Regions from separate parts of the Homo sapiens genome. Here region 1 is linked to region 2. The links come from fine-mapping of genetic effects on gene expression. A gene starts in region 2. The other region holds a variant in brackets. All regions are shown on one strand. Distances are between the middles of the regions. Region 1 has its middle 5.7 kb from the start of MIR3940. Region 2 holds the start of SLC25A23 (solute carrier family 25 member 23).

Region 1 (2,906 bases), 49 kb after region 2:
AGAAAGGGGAGCCGCAGGGGTCAGGTCTGGGCCCCACGGCAGGGACACCACCCTCTCCCGCTCAGACCCTGGGAAAATCCCAGAGGCATGCACGTGAAGGGAGAGGGGACAGGGTCAGGAAAGCTTGTGTTGCTGACTGCTGTGTGAGGGCGTGCAGGGAGGCCCCACCAGTGTCCCATTGCCTTCCCACGTGAGCCAAGGCTGGGTTCTCAAGGCATTTCCTGGGGGAATGGGAATCCCCCAGGTTACCTGGTAGGAAAGCGAGGACCAGGCCCGGGTGACCCTGGACTGTTAAAGCCAGACTTGTTCCCTAGGGGTTGGGGTGCAGTGAGCCAGAAGCGGGGAGCACCTACGTTTCAGAGCAGGTTATTGCGCTGGTAGGTCAAGACCGGCTCACACAAGGTATAGTGCGTGTCCAAGCGCTGGTGGATGGCCAGCTCCGAGTCGTCTGCCCGGTGCTCCACCTGGCCCCAGTGTAGCACTCGTCGGAGCATCGTCTCCATGGAGCAGTCAAACACGATGACGACGCTGGGGGCCTGGCCCACCTAGGAACCCGAACAAGGGGGCTGGGTGTGGAGGGACCAGGCACAGTGGCTCCAGAACCCCGGCTTCCCCAGAAACCAGGTATCTAGGATTACGTGGGCAGGTAAGAAATAATCAGGCCACCCTGGTCTGTTTTATTTATTTATTTATTTATTTATTTATTTATTTATTTGGGCACGTAAGGAATAATCAGGCCACCCTGGTCTGTTTTATTTATTTATTTATTTATTTATTTATTTATTTATTTATTTATTGAGATGGAGTCCCACTCTGTCGCACAGGCTGGAGTGCAATAGCACGATCTCAGCTCACGGCAACCACCTCCTCCCAGGTTCAAGCAATTCTCCTGGCTCAGCCTCCCAAGTAGCTGGCATTACAGGTGCACACCACCACACCCAGCTGATTTTTGTACTTTTAGTAGAGACGGGATTTTGCCATGTTGGTCAGGCTAGTCTCGAACTCCTAACCTCAGGTGATCCTCCCGTCTTGGCCTCCCACAGTGCTGGGATTATAGGCGTGAGCCACCATGCCCAACCTTGTTTTATTTTTCTAGCTCAAGTTTTACGTATTTACTTTTTGGAGAG[G/AGAGG]ACAGGACATTCACTGCCAAACACACACACACACACAGTGAAGCATCTCGCCATCTCCAACCACCCAGGGTCACTCTCCCTGGAGGCAGCCTAGTTACCTGCTCCTGTGTCTCCTTCGAAAGCTATGAGGCATGCACACTGCAAGCAAATATGGTTCTAATACTTTTTTCCTCCTCTTTTTTTTTTTTTTTTCCTTGAAACAGAGTCTTGCTCTGTCAACCAGGCTGGAGTGCGGTGGCGCGATCTCGGCTCGCCGCAACCTCCGTCTCCCAGGTTCAAGCAATTCTCCTGCCTCAGCTTCCCAAGTAGCTGGGATTACAGGCAGCCACCACCACGCCCAGCTAATTTTTGTATTTTTAGTAGGAACGGGGTTTCGCCATGTTGGCCAGGGTAGTCTCGAACTCCTGAGCTCAGGTGATCTGCCCACCTCAGCCTCCCAAAGTGCTGGGATTACAGGCATGAGCCACCGCGCCCAGCCTAAAAAGTAAAATATTCTTAAGTGACTCAAAAGGATACTTGCACAGAAGGATCAGATATATATTCTTGGATAGAAAGACTCAACATTATAAAGGAGCTGAGTCTTCCCAAACTAGTTTATAATTGTCATGTGATCCAAATGTGATGCAATGGCCAAGCATGATGGCTCACGCCTGTAATCCCAGCACTTTGGGAGGCTGAGGTGGGTGGATCACTTGAGGTGAGGAGTTCCAGCCCAACCTGGCCAACACAGTGAAACCCCATCTCTACTAAAAATACGAAAATTATCCGGGCGTGGTGGTGCACGCCTATAGTCCCAGCAACTCGGGAGGCTGAAGCAGGAGAATCGCTTGAACCCGGGAGGCAGAGGTTGCAGTGAGCAGAGATCACACCACTGCACTCCAGCCTGGGCAACACAGCAAGACTCTGCCTCAAAAAAAAAGAAAAGAAAAGAAGAAAGGAAAAAGCCAACAACCTGTCAGAAAAAAAAAAAAAATATATATATATATATATATAGAGAGAGAGAGAGAGAGAAAGAGTTTACTGAAGAAGACAACAAAACACCTTTCAAACTTTTTGTATTTTTAGAGACAGGGTCTCACTCTGTTGCCTGGGCTGGAGTGTAGTGGCAAGATCATAGCTCACTGCAGCCCTGAACTCCTGGGCTCAAGCGATCTCCCACCTCAGCCTCCTGAATAGCTAGGACTACAGGTATGTGTCCCTGTGCCCAGCTTGGCCCTTAAACTTTGCAAAAGATATTAAAACTCAATTGTAGCCAGAGAAATGCTCATTACAACCACACTGAAATACCACTTCTCACCTACACAGGTTGACAAAAATCCAAAACCTTGGCAGCATGTTCTGTAGGTCTCACTGTAAATGTAAAATGAAGAGGAATCTGGTGATGGCTAGCAAAATTATGCATTTCTCTTTAATCCAGCAATTCCACTCCTAATCTATTTCAAGGATACTAGCAAAAAGGTGAAATGACATGCAAAGGTTATTATTTAATGTGGCATTGTCTGTAGTGGCAAAGGATTGAAAGTAATTTATTGCCCATAGGAGATTAGCTGAATATACAATGGCGTGGCCACACAATGGAATACTACACAGCTGTAAAAAAAGAAACAAGGAATATCTCTTGACACTGATGTGAGATATTCTGGATGGATATATGGCAAAGTTAAAAAAAACAAAAAAACAGGCTGGCATGGTGGCTCAGGCCTGTCATCCCAGCACTTAGGGAGGCCGAGGCGGGCAGATCGTTTGAGGTCACGAGTTTGAGACCAGCCTGGCCAACAT
Region 2 (2,906 bases):
TTGGTGGCGGGCGCCTGTAATCCCAGCTACTCGGGAGGCTGAGGCAAAAGAATCGTTTGAATCCGGGAGGCGGAGGTTGCAGTGAGCCGAGATCGCGCCATTGCACTCCAGCCTGAGCAACAACAGCGAAACTCCGTTTCAAAAAAAAAAAAAAAAAAAAGATAATTAATTCTTTCTAGGGTATAGAGTGATGGTTAAGGATCCCAGATCTCTTTAAACCCTGTTTTGCCCCTTAGTGGTCATCAGGACTGGGGAGAATGACTTAACCTCCGCTTCCTTATCTGCAAAGTGCGAACGCCAGTACCACCTACCTTATAGGGTTTTGGCAAAGACGACTCGAGAGGTGAGTAAAAGCCCTGGCATGTGCAAAGCACTGAATCAAAGTGAGATTTGTTATCGAGTATTCGCTGTCAAGTGGTCTGGGCTCCCTTCCCCCTAATGGTGGATCGAGAAACTGCGCCCGAAACTAGCAGTAGGGACATTCCGCAGGTGCAGCGAGTGCGACAGGCTGGGGCCCTGCCTCCAGCGCTCGACCACTGGGATCCTCAACCCCGCGCCCGGGTCACTGAGCCACCCCCTCCCCACGCCGCTCAGCGTCTGATTGCGGCCGCGGCCCCTTTAAGATCTCCTGGCAGGCGGTGGGACTGCGGGCTGGAGGCAGTCGGGGGTCTGCGGGGAGGCCCCGCCTAGGTGGGAGAAGAGGCGGGGCGGGCGGGCTCAGCCCAGGAGGCGCTGACCAATAGGAAACCGACTTTGCAGCCGCGCCGCGCGTTGATTTTCTGTTTCCCAGTCAGAGTGGGAACCGAGAAAGGAAGCGCGCGGGCGGGAAGAAGGGACAGTGGGAGAGCATCGCTCCTGGATCTTCTGTTTCTGCGGCCGAGCGGGGAAGGTGTAAGGCGCGGGCGGGCAGAGAGCGAGCGAGATGGTGCACGGTTCTTGCGTGCGTCTGGGAAAAGCGAGAACTTGAGTTCCTGAAGATTAGTGGGTGTGGCGGGGAGGTCAAGTGGAAGGGGATTATGAAACCCAATCCCCGACAGCGCTCTACCTTGCCCCCTTGGGCAAAGGGGGAAAGGGTAAACTGAGGCACGCAGAGGCGGAACTCTGAAACCAGACCTGAGACCACTGAGCTCCCTAGCCCGTCTTCCCAGAAGGAACTCTGGTGTTCCTCGGCTGTGCAATACCAGACCATCCCAGACATTCCCTCCCCACGCCCCCAGCTCCGCCCTCGGTCCCCTCCCCCCAATGCAGGTCGGGGGAGGAGACGCAAGTTCTGGCGCGGGCGGCGACGGCTAGCCGTCACCACCTCCCGCAAGTGCCAGAGCCGAGCGGACTGCGCGGAGGCTGCGGAGCCGGCGGCCGCGGGAGCTGACCCTGCGGGGTCCCGGGGGGGGAGGGGGAGCCGCGAAGCCCCCACTGAGGCCGCCGCTGCCGGGCCTCCCCTCCCCCCCGGGCGGGCGCCATGCGGGGGAGCCCGGGCGACGCGGAGCGGCGGCAGCGCTGGGGTCGCCTGTTCGAGGAGCTGGACAGTAACAAGGATGGCCGCGTGGACGTGCACGAGTTGCGCCAGGGGCTGGCCAGGCTGGGCGGGGGCAACCCAGACCCCGGCGCCCAACAGGTACCCCCACCCCCAGGGACCTCCTCCCCTCCCGGCCCCGCCCGCTCCCGGTTACCCAAGCCCCTGAACTGGGCGGCCGGAGCCACCAGGGACTACCTGTGGCTGGACTCCAGAACCTGTGTCTCTGTCTCGTTCCCCCTACCCACTCGTGTTTGGCCTAACGGGATCGCTCAAGACAGGGACGCCGAGGCCCCAAGCCTGCAGTTCCGCGGCCAACACCCGATCCCCCTGCTGCGGGGCAGGGGGCGTCTGCCTGGGAAGAGATGGGGGCGCTTTCCTGCCCACTGCCCGGGACACACCCTCCTCCAGACTGCACAGCCCATGACGTGCCCTGCTCTCACCTCCAGGAGACACACCCTCCATCCTCTGGGCACCTACTGCCCTGGCCTGCAGCTGCCCCGATCCCTGTGTTTACATTCCCTGGCCTGCCCTTTCATGGGCCGTTCACGGGCCTGGCTCACTGTCCCGGGCTGCCCCAGCCAGGGACCCAATCCTGTCTGCGGTCACCCGCAGCTGGGAATGCACCTATAACAAGACTTTCCTCCCGCTGCCCCCACCTCCACTTTGCAGGTCCTTCCCACACCTGTAGCCCCAGATCGCTCTAAGAGAACCACAGCAACCCTGAGAGCAGTCCAACCTCCCACTTCCCAAATGGGAAAAACCAAGGCCTCAGCCACTCCGCTTGGTTCTCTCCTGCCCCACATCGCCCAGGGCTTCCTCCAAAGGGAACCCCTGGGTCCCCCATGTGGACAGGGTTTTTTAAGAGGCAGCTGGGTTCAACAGGAATGAGATACCTAAAAAAATAACAAAAACTAAAAACAAGAGACAGCTGGAAGGACAGGCTTTACAGATGAGAACTGAGGTTACCATTTCCTGGTTCTGTGACCTTGAACTGGTGACTTGACCTTGCAGAGCCTCAGTTTGCTCACCAGGAAAACTAGACCACTCACACCCACCGCACAGACCTGTGGTGGCTGTAGGGATCTGGCTGAGAAGTTAGCTGACTGAGGGAGAAGTGGGGTGACGTCTTCTATCCCCTTCCTCAAGGCGCTGGGGGCTCTGGGTTCCTAAGGCATAAGGTGACATGCGTCCCCTCCAGATCAGGAGCAGGTTCCTGGAGCCACCTCTATCCCCTTTCCCTCTGTCAGGGTATCTCCTCTGAGGGTGATGCTGACCCAGATGGCGGGCTCGACCTGGAGGAATTTTCCCGCTATCTGCAGGAGCGGGAACAGCGTCTGCTGCTCATGTTTCACAGTCTTGACCGGAACCAGGATGGTAAGGTCGGGCGACC

Evidence for each region. PIP is the estimated chance that this variant, and not a neighbour inherited with it, causes the effect.
Region 1: its variant is the best candidate, but not a certain one, in a credible set for the expression of SLC25A23 in whole blood (INTERVAL, PIP 0.62).

Annotation. Positions count from the first base shown.
Region 1 is chr19:6,409,360-6,412,265 of GRCh38, reverse strand. It overlaps the pseudogene LOC390877. Among named protein-coding and RNA genes, the nearest start is that of MIR3940, 5.7 kb to the left of the region's middle. RefSeq lists an enhancer at 1-569. The variant G/AGAGG (reference allele first, on the strand shown) is at 1,128.
Region 2 is chr19:6,458,182-6,461,087 of GRCh38, reverse strand. SLC25A23 (solute carrier family 25 member 23) reads left to right here and starts at 1,296. Exons shown (of 10, transcript NM_024103.3): 1 at 1,296-1,615; 2 at 2,764-2,890. The coding sequence starts at 1,460. RefSeq lists silencers at 605-784, 1,295-1,434, 1,485-1,544.